2 separate regions of the Homo sapiens genome follow, and region 2 is linked to region 1. Evidence: fine-mapped expression QTL. A gene starts in region 1. The other region holds a variant in brackets. All regions are shown on one strand. Distances are from middle to middle.

The links. PIP is the estimated chance that this variant, and not a neighbour inherited with it, causes the effect.
Region 2: its variant is the best candidate, but not a certain one, in a credible set for the expression of GRIK5 in whole blood (TOPMed, PIP 0.77).

The regions. Positions count from the first base shown.
Region 1 is chr19:42,067,112-42,072,619 of GRCh38, forward strand. It overlaps GRIK5 (glutamate ionotropic receptor kainate type subunit 5), which reads right to left and starts at 3,095. Exons shown (of 20, transcript NM_002088.5): 1 at 2,130-3,095. It also overlaps a transcript of ZNF574 not described here.
Region 2 is chr19:42,008,705-42,013,704 of GRCh38, forward strand. All of the region lies in intron 15 of GRIK5 (glutamate ionotropic receptor kainate type subunit 5), which reads right to left. Among named protein-coding and RNA genes, the nearest start is that of ATP1A3, 17 kb to the left of the region's middle. The variant G/A (reference allele first, on the strand shown) is at 2,577.

The sequences.
Region 1 (5,508 bases):
GGAAGGGATGCTTGGGTTTCCATGGAGTAGGGTTACTGTGGGGGGCACAGAATGCTGTGAAGTGGGCCTGGACACCGGACCCCACTCAGTCCCCATGGAAGGACAGCTTGAGCTGGTGAAACTGTGGAATGAGAACTTCGAGGGAAGGATAGAGGCACAAGTCCTTCTCACCATCTCAAGTGGCCTGCAAAACCTAGGCTGGGGATCAGTCCCAGCTCTGCCCCTGACTCACTGCGTGATCTTGAGCAAGTCACTGCCTTCTAGGCCTCTGAGAAGAAGAGAGTGCTAGGTGGGAGGGTATGCTGGACAGGCTGGGGACTGCAAACTATAATGTGGATTAAGGTGAAGGCTTGTCAAGGATGGAGGCACAAGGGATGCTGGGAGACCCGGAGGAGCGCTCAGAGTGGGAGGAGTGTGAAGGGCGGAGCTAGGAGAGAGGCAGGAGTGGAGTGGGTCATCCTGAGACACCAGGGACTCCTGGGGCAAATCAGGGAGCAGAGGACAAAGGACAGAAAGACCGAGGGAGAGATGGGACAGAAGGACAGGGACCCACAGGTGGCAGCCAAAGGTGGGAGCAGACAGAGAAAGACAGGGTTGAGGGGCAGCAGGTGGACACAGAGATACACACAGAAAGACAGCCCAAGACGTAGGAACTGAGGCTAAGTGAGAGAGCAAGAGACAGACACAGCCTAGAAGTGAGACAGCAAAGGAGACAGAGACAGGGCAGGTAGGGTGTCAGGCAGGTCCAGGACTCAGCCCCAGAGACTGGGCAAAGCCAGATAAAAGTCAAAACCCAGCAGAGAGCTGAGCAACAGTGGGCATAGGAGAGACATCAGCAAAGGTGAGAGGCAAGGAGGGCCAGCGAAGGCACACAGGGTGAGGGAGAAGGCAAAGGGAGATAAAGAAACAGCAGCAGGTACAAGACTTGGGAGAAGGAAAGAAATGGCCAAACTCTACAAAGAGAGAGGGCCAGTCGGAAAGAGAGACAGTATGTCGGAGCTGCACGACAGGCCCATAGAAGAGGAAGGGGCAAGGGGGAAAAGCACCTGGGAGAGAGAAAGGGGGAGTCAGGGAGGGAAACTGAGGTGGGGAGATGGAGTGAGTGCACTAGAGGGGCACAGGCAGGGACAGGGCAAGCACCTGCAGGAGAGGCCAGACCCACACAGAGGCATAGCCACCCCAAGACACTCAGGAATGCCGTGTGGGGGAGCAGGAGATCCTGGGGCCTGAAAGCCCCCAGACATGGAGAGGAATGGGAGCAGAAAGGCCACGCGAGGTAACACAGAAGTCGGGAGAGAGAATGGGAGTGGAAAGAGCCAGACCAGCCAGGAAAAGTCAGCATGGACCACGGAGAGGTGGGGCAGCAGCTGAGGAGGGAGGGACTGAGGAGCCGGGCACCCAGAGTGGATCTGGGGGAAAGAGGTGGAAAAGTGACAGAGGGAAGACAGCCTCCAAGCTCAGAGGCAGAGAGAGGGAGGAGGACAGGTGAGCGGAGGCACAGAATAGAAAGAGAAATGGAAAGAGACCTGCCGAGGGAGACTTGGAAAGAGGGAAGCCAGGGTGGAGGAGTTCTGACAGAGAGAGGGATCTAAACAGAGACATGCCGAGAGCAACCTGGGCTAACAGCAAAGAGAGAAGTTGGGCAGAGTCAGAGAGGGGCCCAAGAGACACAGGAAATGGGGGCTCAAAAGCGGAAAGACATATCCAGGAGATAGAGACTGGACGGGGTGGGGACAGGGCCAAGGCCCACCGCAGGCAGAGGATGAGGCTCAGAGGAACAGAAAGAGCCAGTCTGGGACCAGGACGGAGGCTTGGAGACAGCAGGGGCACGGACATGCCAGGGGCCCGGGGTAAGTGAGAGCCCAAGTAAGAGCAATCAGCCCCGTAGGACCCCAGAAAGCTAGAGGGCCAGGGGCGGCAGTGAGCTATGTACCCAGAAGAAGAGGTGAGAAGAGGTCGAGGTGAATGGACGCTGAGGAGATGGAGGGCGCAGAGCAGGCCCCTAGTGGGGGAGGGTACTTGCCAGTCCGGAGAACGGGGAGAATGTGGTGCCCCCCTGCCAGGCGGCACCAGAGCCCAGCCTTCCAGGACCCAGAACCCAGCCCAATCCCTGCCCTGCAGACACTCACGGATCCTGGTGGGACGGAGGGCTGGGCTCCCTCGAGGCCCGAAGACCGACAGCGGGAGGTGCTCTGGCGCTGGGTGGTGGTGGGGCTGGGCGGGGGGAGAGGGCAGTCCACAGGGCCCCCTCCCCCGCCGCCGGTGGTGGCTCCCAACTAATCCAAAACGGTGGCTCCACAGGAGCAGGGAGGAAGGACAGGTGGAAGAGGAGAGGGCGGGCCGGGGAGGGGAGGAAGGGGAAAGGAGAAAATGGAGGAGAGAAGGGGAGAGAGGAGAGGGGGAAGGAGCAAATGGAGGGGAAGGAGGGAGGAAAGGAGGAGAGGAAGGTGAAAACGGAAGGGGGGGGCACAGGCAAAGCCGGGGGAGGGGGAAGCTGGCCCAGGAAAGGGCCCCCGCCCCCTCCCCTAGCCGGGCCGGCCTGGGGGGGCCACAGGGGGCGAGGACTGGGTGGAGAAAAGGAAGCCGGCCATCAGGAGAAGTGGGGGAGGGGAGGGCCTGCTGGGGGAGGGGGCCGCCCCCTTTCCCCCTCCCCCCTGGAGCCTGGGCCCTGCCCTGGTTGAGGCAAGGGCCCGGAGTCCTCAAGCCCTCAGCCCCCACGGGAAAAGCATGCTGGGGGCGGGGAGAGCCCGGGAGTGGAGAGCTGGGGAGGATGGAGAGCTGGGAGACCCGGAGAGGCCAAGAAGGGGGCAAATGAGGTGGAGAGATAGGGAGGAGGGAGAGGAGGATGGAGAGGAGCAGGTGGAAGAGAAAGGCGGAGGAGGGTGGGGTGTCCCAGGGGCTCCCGGTGCTGGGCCTCAGTGGGAGGGCCTGGCGACACACTCCTGGTCCCCTGTGAGGAGCCGGCTCCAGTCCCCGGCTCCAGTCCCCGGCTGGGCCTGCCTCCCTGCCGCTGGCTGCCGCCACCGCTCAGTCTCCCCTCCGAGGCCGCCGCCTGCCTGCCCGCCTGCCGCCTGCGCTGGGTCCTGGAGCGCAGTGGGGTGGTTCAGGAGAGAGAGAAGAGGGAGGGAGGGAGGCAGGGAGGAGGGCGGGCAGGAGGAAGGGAGGGAGGCAGGCAAAGAGAGAGTAGGGAGGTGAGTCGGGGGAGGGGGAGCCTGTATTGGTTGGGGCTGGGGGCCCCCCGCGAGGAGAATGCTGATGAGAAGAAGGAGCTGCATTGGATGGAAGGCCCACCCCCGAGCCACCCCCTCTACCACACCATGCCACCGCCCTGCCCAGGCAGCCCTGGGCACAGGAGCCCACAGAGATGAGAGGCAAGAAGACCCAGGGAGAAGGCCACTGAGATGAGGGGAGAGGGCTACAGAGATGAAGAGAAATGAAGAGAAGAGAGACAGCCGTCAAGACTGTCCAGAGAAGTGGGCTGAGGCCCACAAACCCCACAAGGACAAGGACAGGAAAAGCCCAGGGATAAGAAAGAAAGGCCCATGGAGACAAGGGAGCAGCCTACAGAGACAAGCAAAAGGACCTCGGAGACAAGGGGCAGTAATGTGGACATAGAGACCTCCCGCGAAGGAAAACGGGAGAAGCCAGAGACACAAGAGAGAGGCCCCTGGAAACAGAAAGCACTCCTCAGATATGGGGAGCGGTCCACAGGGCAGGGAGAGAGCCAAGGAGAGCCGAAGAAGGTCACAGAAACAAGGGAGGCCTACAGACACCAGGGTACCAAAAAGACAAGGATGTGGCTCATAGACACAAGAGAGCCACTGAGGCAGGAGCTGCCAGCCTGGAGATGCGGGGCAAGCCTCCCCCAATATAAATAGCTCCTATAGAGGTGAGGGGATGGGTGGTGAGTATGAGAATTCCCTATAGTGCACAGAGAAATCCTTGGGACCCACAGAGATGAGTGGGTGGAGAGAAGGGGCCCTCATTCTCTAGTCACAGGAGCAGAGAGGCAGTGGGAAAGGTGGATGGGACAAGGAGAGGAAGCTGGAGGGCAGAGCCAGAAGTGGGAGACTCCTTCCCAGGGAACACCCTGCAGCCTCTCAGAAGGAGCTGAGCAGGACAGGGGGATGGAAGAGAGAAGCGACACAGATCTTGGAGTGGGGGTGGGTGGTGCATGGCTGGGTGGGGGGTGAAATTTGGGGGGAAGAAACATGACAGTTGGCGCCGAAGGCTGAGCCCGTGACTCACCACCACCCCCGATGCTCGTGATGGGGAGGAGACACTGACACACTCACGTGCGGCCCACAGCATATGTGACCGCATGCCTCGAACACACAGCTGGCACATGGCAACTCCTGGACCACATGCCAGCCCAGCACAGGAAGCCCTCTGCAAGCTGGCATGTGGGGCATCCTGGACACACATCTGACACATATATCTGACGCTGAAGGACCACCAACTTTGCACACACCTCCTTACCCCACTTGGTCAACATCTACACCGCCCCCTCAAACATCCACACTTAACTCCAGTCAGGCCTAAAAGCCCAGATTCACACCTGCCTCTGGGACTTTGCTTATGAAGGACCTCAACACAGAACACCATCCTTTCGACCAGGGCGGTGGCTCATTCCTGTAACCCCAGCACTTTGGAAGGCCGGGGCAGGTGGACCACCTGAGGTTGGGAGTTCAAGACCAGCCTGGCCAACATGGCAAAACCCCGTCACTACTAAAAATACAAAAATTAGCCAGGCCCGGTGGCACACTCCTTTAGTCCCAGCTACTTGGGAGGCTGAGGCACAAGAATTGCTTGAACCTAGGAGGCAGAGGTTGCTGTGAGCCATGATCATGCCACTGCACTCCAGCATGGGAGACAAAGCGAGACTCCATCTCCAAAAAAAAAACAAAAAACAAAAACCAACCACCATCCCCTCTAAATTCAACCTGTCCCGGAAATCCCAGCCAGTCCTGCACTACCACCTCCAGAAAGACCTCAGCTTATCCTCAGCTTATTCCTATATGATCTGGAGAAAAGAGACCTGCACCACCCAAATCAAGTTGAGAAGTCCAAGCAAAAGGCCTGAGAAGTTACCTGGATCCTCAAATTTTCTTTTTTTTTCCTTTTCTTTTTTTTTTTTTTTTGAGATGGAGTCTCGCTCTGTTGTCCAGACTGGAGTGCAGTGGCATGATCTCGGCTCACTGCAAGCTCTGCCTCCTGGGTTCACACCATTCTCCTGCCTCAGCCTCCTGAGTAGCTGGTACTACAGGCGCCCACCACCACACCCGGCTAACTTTTTTTGTATTTTTAGTAGAGACGGGGTTTCACCATGTTAGCCAGGATGGTCTCGATCTCCTGACTTCGTGATCTGCCTGCCTCGGCCTCCCAAAGTGCTGGGATTACAGGCGCAAGCCACTGCACCCGGCCAGGTTTTCTTTTCTTTTATTTTTTCTTTCTTTCTTTTTTTTTTTTCTTTAGATGGAGTTTCGCTCTTGTTGCCTAGGTTGGAGT
Region 2 (5,000 bases), 59 kb before region 1:
CCCAGAATTGACATAGATGATGACGGAATTAGCAGACAAGGACATGAAAACAGCTATTATAAATACATTCAGAATGCTCAAGAGTATAAAGAAAAACATGAACGTAATGAAAGGAACAGAAGATATAAAAAGAAGTGAACAGAACTTTTAGAGAATGATATACACATATCTGAAAGAAAAATTTTACTGAAAGGGATTACACAGATTAGACACCGGCAGCAGAAAAGATGAGGGAATTTGGGCCAGGCACAGTAGCTCATGCCTGTAATCCTAGCACACTGGGAGGCCGAGGCAGGAGGATCACTTGAGGCTGGGACTTTGAGATAAGCCTGGTCAACATAGCCAGACCCTGTCTCTACAGAAAAATAAAAAAATTAGATGGGTGTGGTGGTGCCTGCCTACAGTCCCAGCAACTTGAGAGGCTGAGGTGGGAGGATCACTTGAGGCCAGAAGTTTAAGTCTACACTGAGCCTGGTCGTCACTGCACTCTAGTCTGAATGACTAAGTGAGACCTTATCGTTATTTTTTTATTTTATTTATTTATTTATTTTTGAGATAGAGTCTCGCTCTGTCCCAAGCTGAAGCTGGAGTGCAATGGCGCGATCTCGACTCACTGCAACCTCCGCTTCCCGGGTTCAAGCGATTCTCCTGCCTCAGCCTCCTGAATAGCTGGGATTACAGGCACCCGCCACCATGCCCAGATAATTTTTGTATTTTTTGTAGAGATGGGGTTTTGCCACGTTGGCCAGGCTGAGACCTTATCTTTAAAAAAAAAAAAAAAGGCTGGGCGCGGTGGCTCACGCCTGTAATCCCAGCACTTTGGGAGGCCAAGGAGGGAGGATAACCTGAGTTCAGGAGTTTGCGACCAGCCTGACTAACATGGCGAAAACCCTTCTCTACTAGAAATACAAAAATTAGCCAAGTGTGGTGGTGCATGCCTGTAATCCCAGTTACTCAGGAGGCTGAGGCAGGAGAATTGCCTGAACCTGGGAGGTAGAGGTTGCAGTGAGCTCAGATTGTGCCACCGCACTCCAGCCTGGGCAACAGAGTAAGACTTTGTCTCAAAAAAAAAAAAAAAAAAGCCAGGCACAGTGGCTCAGGCCTGTAATTCTAGCACTTTCGGAGGCCGATGGGGGCGGATTGCCTGAGCTCAGGGGTTCTAGACCAGCCTGACCAACATGGAGAAACCCCATCTCTACTAAAAATACAAAATTAGCCGAGCATGGTGGTGCACGCCTGTAATCCCAGCTACTTGGGAGGCTGAGACAGGACAACTGCTTGATCCCAGGAGGTGGAGGTTGCTGTGAGCTGAGATCACGCCACTGCACTCCAGCCTGGGCAACAAGAGTGGAACTCCATCTCAAAAAAAAAAAAAAAAAGATTAGAGAATTTGAAGAACTGCAATAGAATCTATCCAAAATAAAGCACAGAAAGGAAAAAGTGATGAAAATGAGCACAGAGCCTCAATGGCCTGAGAAATAAGTGGCTTTACCTATGTGACTGGAGTTCCAGAAAGAGAGGAGAGAAAGGGATAACCAAAAAAAAGTCTGATGAAGTAATGGCCTACAACTTTTCAAATTTGATGAAAACCATAAACTTGCAGATGTAAGCTCCATAAACCCCAGGTAGGCTAAACACACATATTTATAAAACGCACCAAGACACATTATAATCAATTGCTGAAAACCAGCAATAAAGAGAAACATCTTAAAAGCAGCTAGAAGGGGGGAAACATATTACATTCAGAGAATCAAAGATAACAGTGCCAGTCGACTTCTTGTCAGAGAGTGTGCAAGCCCAAAGATGATGCAACATGCTGAAAGAAAAATCAAAACAAACTGTCAACCTAGAATTCCACAGCAGGCAAAAATATCCCTCAAAGAAGACACACTAACACATTTTTCATACAAAACCAAAGCTGGGAGAATTAATTGCCAGCAGACCCGCACAGCAAGAAATATTAAAGGAAGTTCTGCAGGTAAAAGAAACACAACACCAGATAGAAACGTGGATGTACCAGAAGGGGTGAAGGGCACCCTCTTCAAATGGTAGATTTGTGGGTAAATAGAAAAGATATATTCCTCACTTTCAAATTTCCTTACGAAGCATTTAGTGGTTTGGTTTTGTTTTTGAGACAGGGTCCTGCTCTAGGGTGGAGAGGCGTGAACACAGCTCACTGCAGCCTCAACCTCCTGGACCCAAGCAATTCTCCCACCTCAGCCTCCCACGGAGCTGGGACCACAGGCATGCATCACCATGCCTGGCTAATGTTTCTTAGTTTTTGTAGAGATGAGGTCTCGCTATGTTGGCCAGGCTGGTGTTGGACGCCTGGGTTCAAGGAATCCTCCAGCCTCGGCCTCCCAAAGTGTTGGGATTACAGGCGTGAGCACCACACCCAGCATTTACTATCTAACACACACACACACACACACACACACCCCTAATGTATTGTGGGGTTCATAAGATATGCAGAGCTCAAAGGACGGGAGGGTGAGAGGAACATATCATGTTGTCAAGGTCTTATATCTTACGTGAAATGGTATAATGTTACTTGAAAGTATTTTGTGGCTGGGTGC[G/A]GTGGTTTACGCCTGTAATCCCAGCACTTTGGGAGGCCGAGGCAGGAGGATCACGAGGTCAGGAGATCGAGACCATCCTGGCTAACATGGTGAAACCCCGTCTCTACTAAAAATACAAAAAAATTAGCCAGGCGTGGTAGCGGGCGCCTGTGGTCCCAGCTACTCGGGAGGCTGAGGCAGAAGAATGGCATGAACCCGGGAGGCGGAGCTTGCAGTGAGCCGAGATCGCGCCACTGCACTCCAGCCTGGGGGACAGAGCGAGACTCCGTCTCAAAAAAAAAAAAAAAAAGTATTTTGTAATAAATTAAAGATCCATATTGCAAACCCAGAAAACCACTAAGAAAAATAAAACAAAGAAGTACAGTTAACAAGTCAAGAGTAGAGATAAGCAGAATCTTGAAAATCCCAACAGGCCAGGCACAGTGGCTCACGCTGTAATTCCATCACTTTGGGAGGCCAAGGTGGGCAAATTGCTTGAGCTCAGGAGTTTGAGACCAGCCTGGGCAATGAAGTGAGATCCGGTCTCTACAAAAAATTTAAAAAATTAGCTGGGCATGGTAGAGCGCACCTATGGTCCTAGCTACACAGGAGGCTGAGGCAGGAGGATGGCTTGAGCCCAGGAGTCGTGTTCGTGCCACTGCACTCCAGCGTGGGTGACAGAGTGAGACCCTGTCTCAAAAAGAAAAGAAAAGAAAAGTCCCAGTAACCCCCTAAAGGTAGAAAAAGAGGAAAAGGGGAACAAAGAACAGATGGGACAAATAGCAGGTTGGTAGATTTAAACCTAACCATATCAGTAATTACATTAAGGGTAATTGGTTTGAACCAGCGGCTGGCTAACTATGGCCCACAGGCCAAATCTGACCTGCTGTCTATTTTTGTACAGCCCCATAAGCTAAGAATGGCTTTTACATATACATATATGTATATGTATATATACATGTATGTGTATGTATGTATGTATGTATGTATGTATGTATTTATTTATTTGGAGACAGAGTCTCTCTCTGTTGCCCAGGTTGGAGTGCAGTGGCACGATCTCAGCTTACTGCAACCTCTGCCTCCCAGGTTCAAGCAATTCTCCTGCCTCAGCCTCCCGAGTAGCTGGAACTACAGGCGCACACTGCCACGCCTGGCTAATTTTTTGTATTTTAGTAGAGATGGGGTTTCACCTTGTTGCCCAGGTAGGTCTAGAACCCCTGAGCTCAGGCAATCCGCCCGCATCGGCCTCCCAAAGTGCTAGGATTACAGGCATGAGCCACCACGCCCGGCCAGTTTTCACATTTTTAAATGGTTAAAATGAAATCAGAAGAACAGGCTGGGCGCAGTGGTTCACACCTATAATCCGAGCACTTTGGGAGGCCAAGGTGGGTGGATCGCTTGAGCCCAGGAATTGAGACTAGCCTGGGCAACATGGCGAAACCCTATCTCTACAAAAAGTTAGCCAGACTGGGTGGCACGTGCCTGTGGTTCCAGCTACTCAAGAGGCTGAGGTGGGAGGATTCCTTAAGCCTGGGAGGTTGAGGCTGCAGTGAGCCAAGATTGTACCACTGTACTCCAGCCTGGGCAACAGAGTGAGATATTGCCTCAAAAAAAAAAAAAAGGAATATTTTATGACACATGACTTATATAAAATTCAAATTTCAGTGTCAGTATCCATAAATAAAGTTTTATTGGAACACAGCCACACTCATTCATTTAATGTATCATCTACAACAGCTTCTATACTACAATGGAAGATTGAGTAGCTGGAACAAAGACCATATGATCAACAAAGTACAAAATATTTACTTAGGGCCAGAGCAGTGGCTCATGCCTGTAATCGCGGCACTTTGGGAGGCTGAGGCAGGAAGATCGCTTGAGGCCAGGAGTTCAAGACCAGCCTGGGCAACAAAGTAAGAACTCTCTACAAAAAAAAAAAAATGAAAATAATAAAAAATTAGCCAGGCACGTAGTCCTAGCTACTCAGTAGGCGGAGGCAGGAAGATCCCTTGAGCCCAGGAGTTTGAGGCTGTAGGGAGCTATAAACACACAGCACTCCAGCCTAGAGACAGAGCAAGATCCTGTCTTTAAAAAAATAAAAATAAAGATAAATATTTAAAAACATCTTTTTTTTTCTTTTTTTCTTTTCTTTTTTTTTTTTTTTTTTTGAGATGGAGTCTTGCTCTGTCGCCCAGGCTGGAATGCAGTGGGGCGATCTCGGCTCACTGCAAGCTCCGCCTCCCAGGTTCGCGCCATTCTCCTGCCTCAGCCTCCGGAGTAGCTGGGACTACAGGCACCCGCCACCGCACCCGGCTAATTTTTTGTATCTTTTAGTAGAGACAGGGTTTCACCATGTTAGCCAGGACGGTCTCGATCCTCTGACCTCGTGATCCGCCCACCTCGGCCTCCCAAAGTGCTGGGCTTACAGGCGTGAGCCACCGCGCC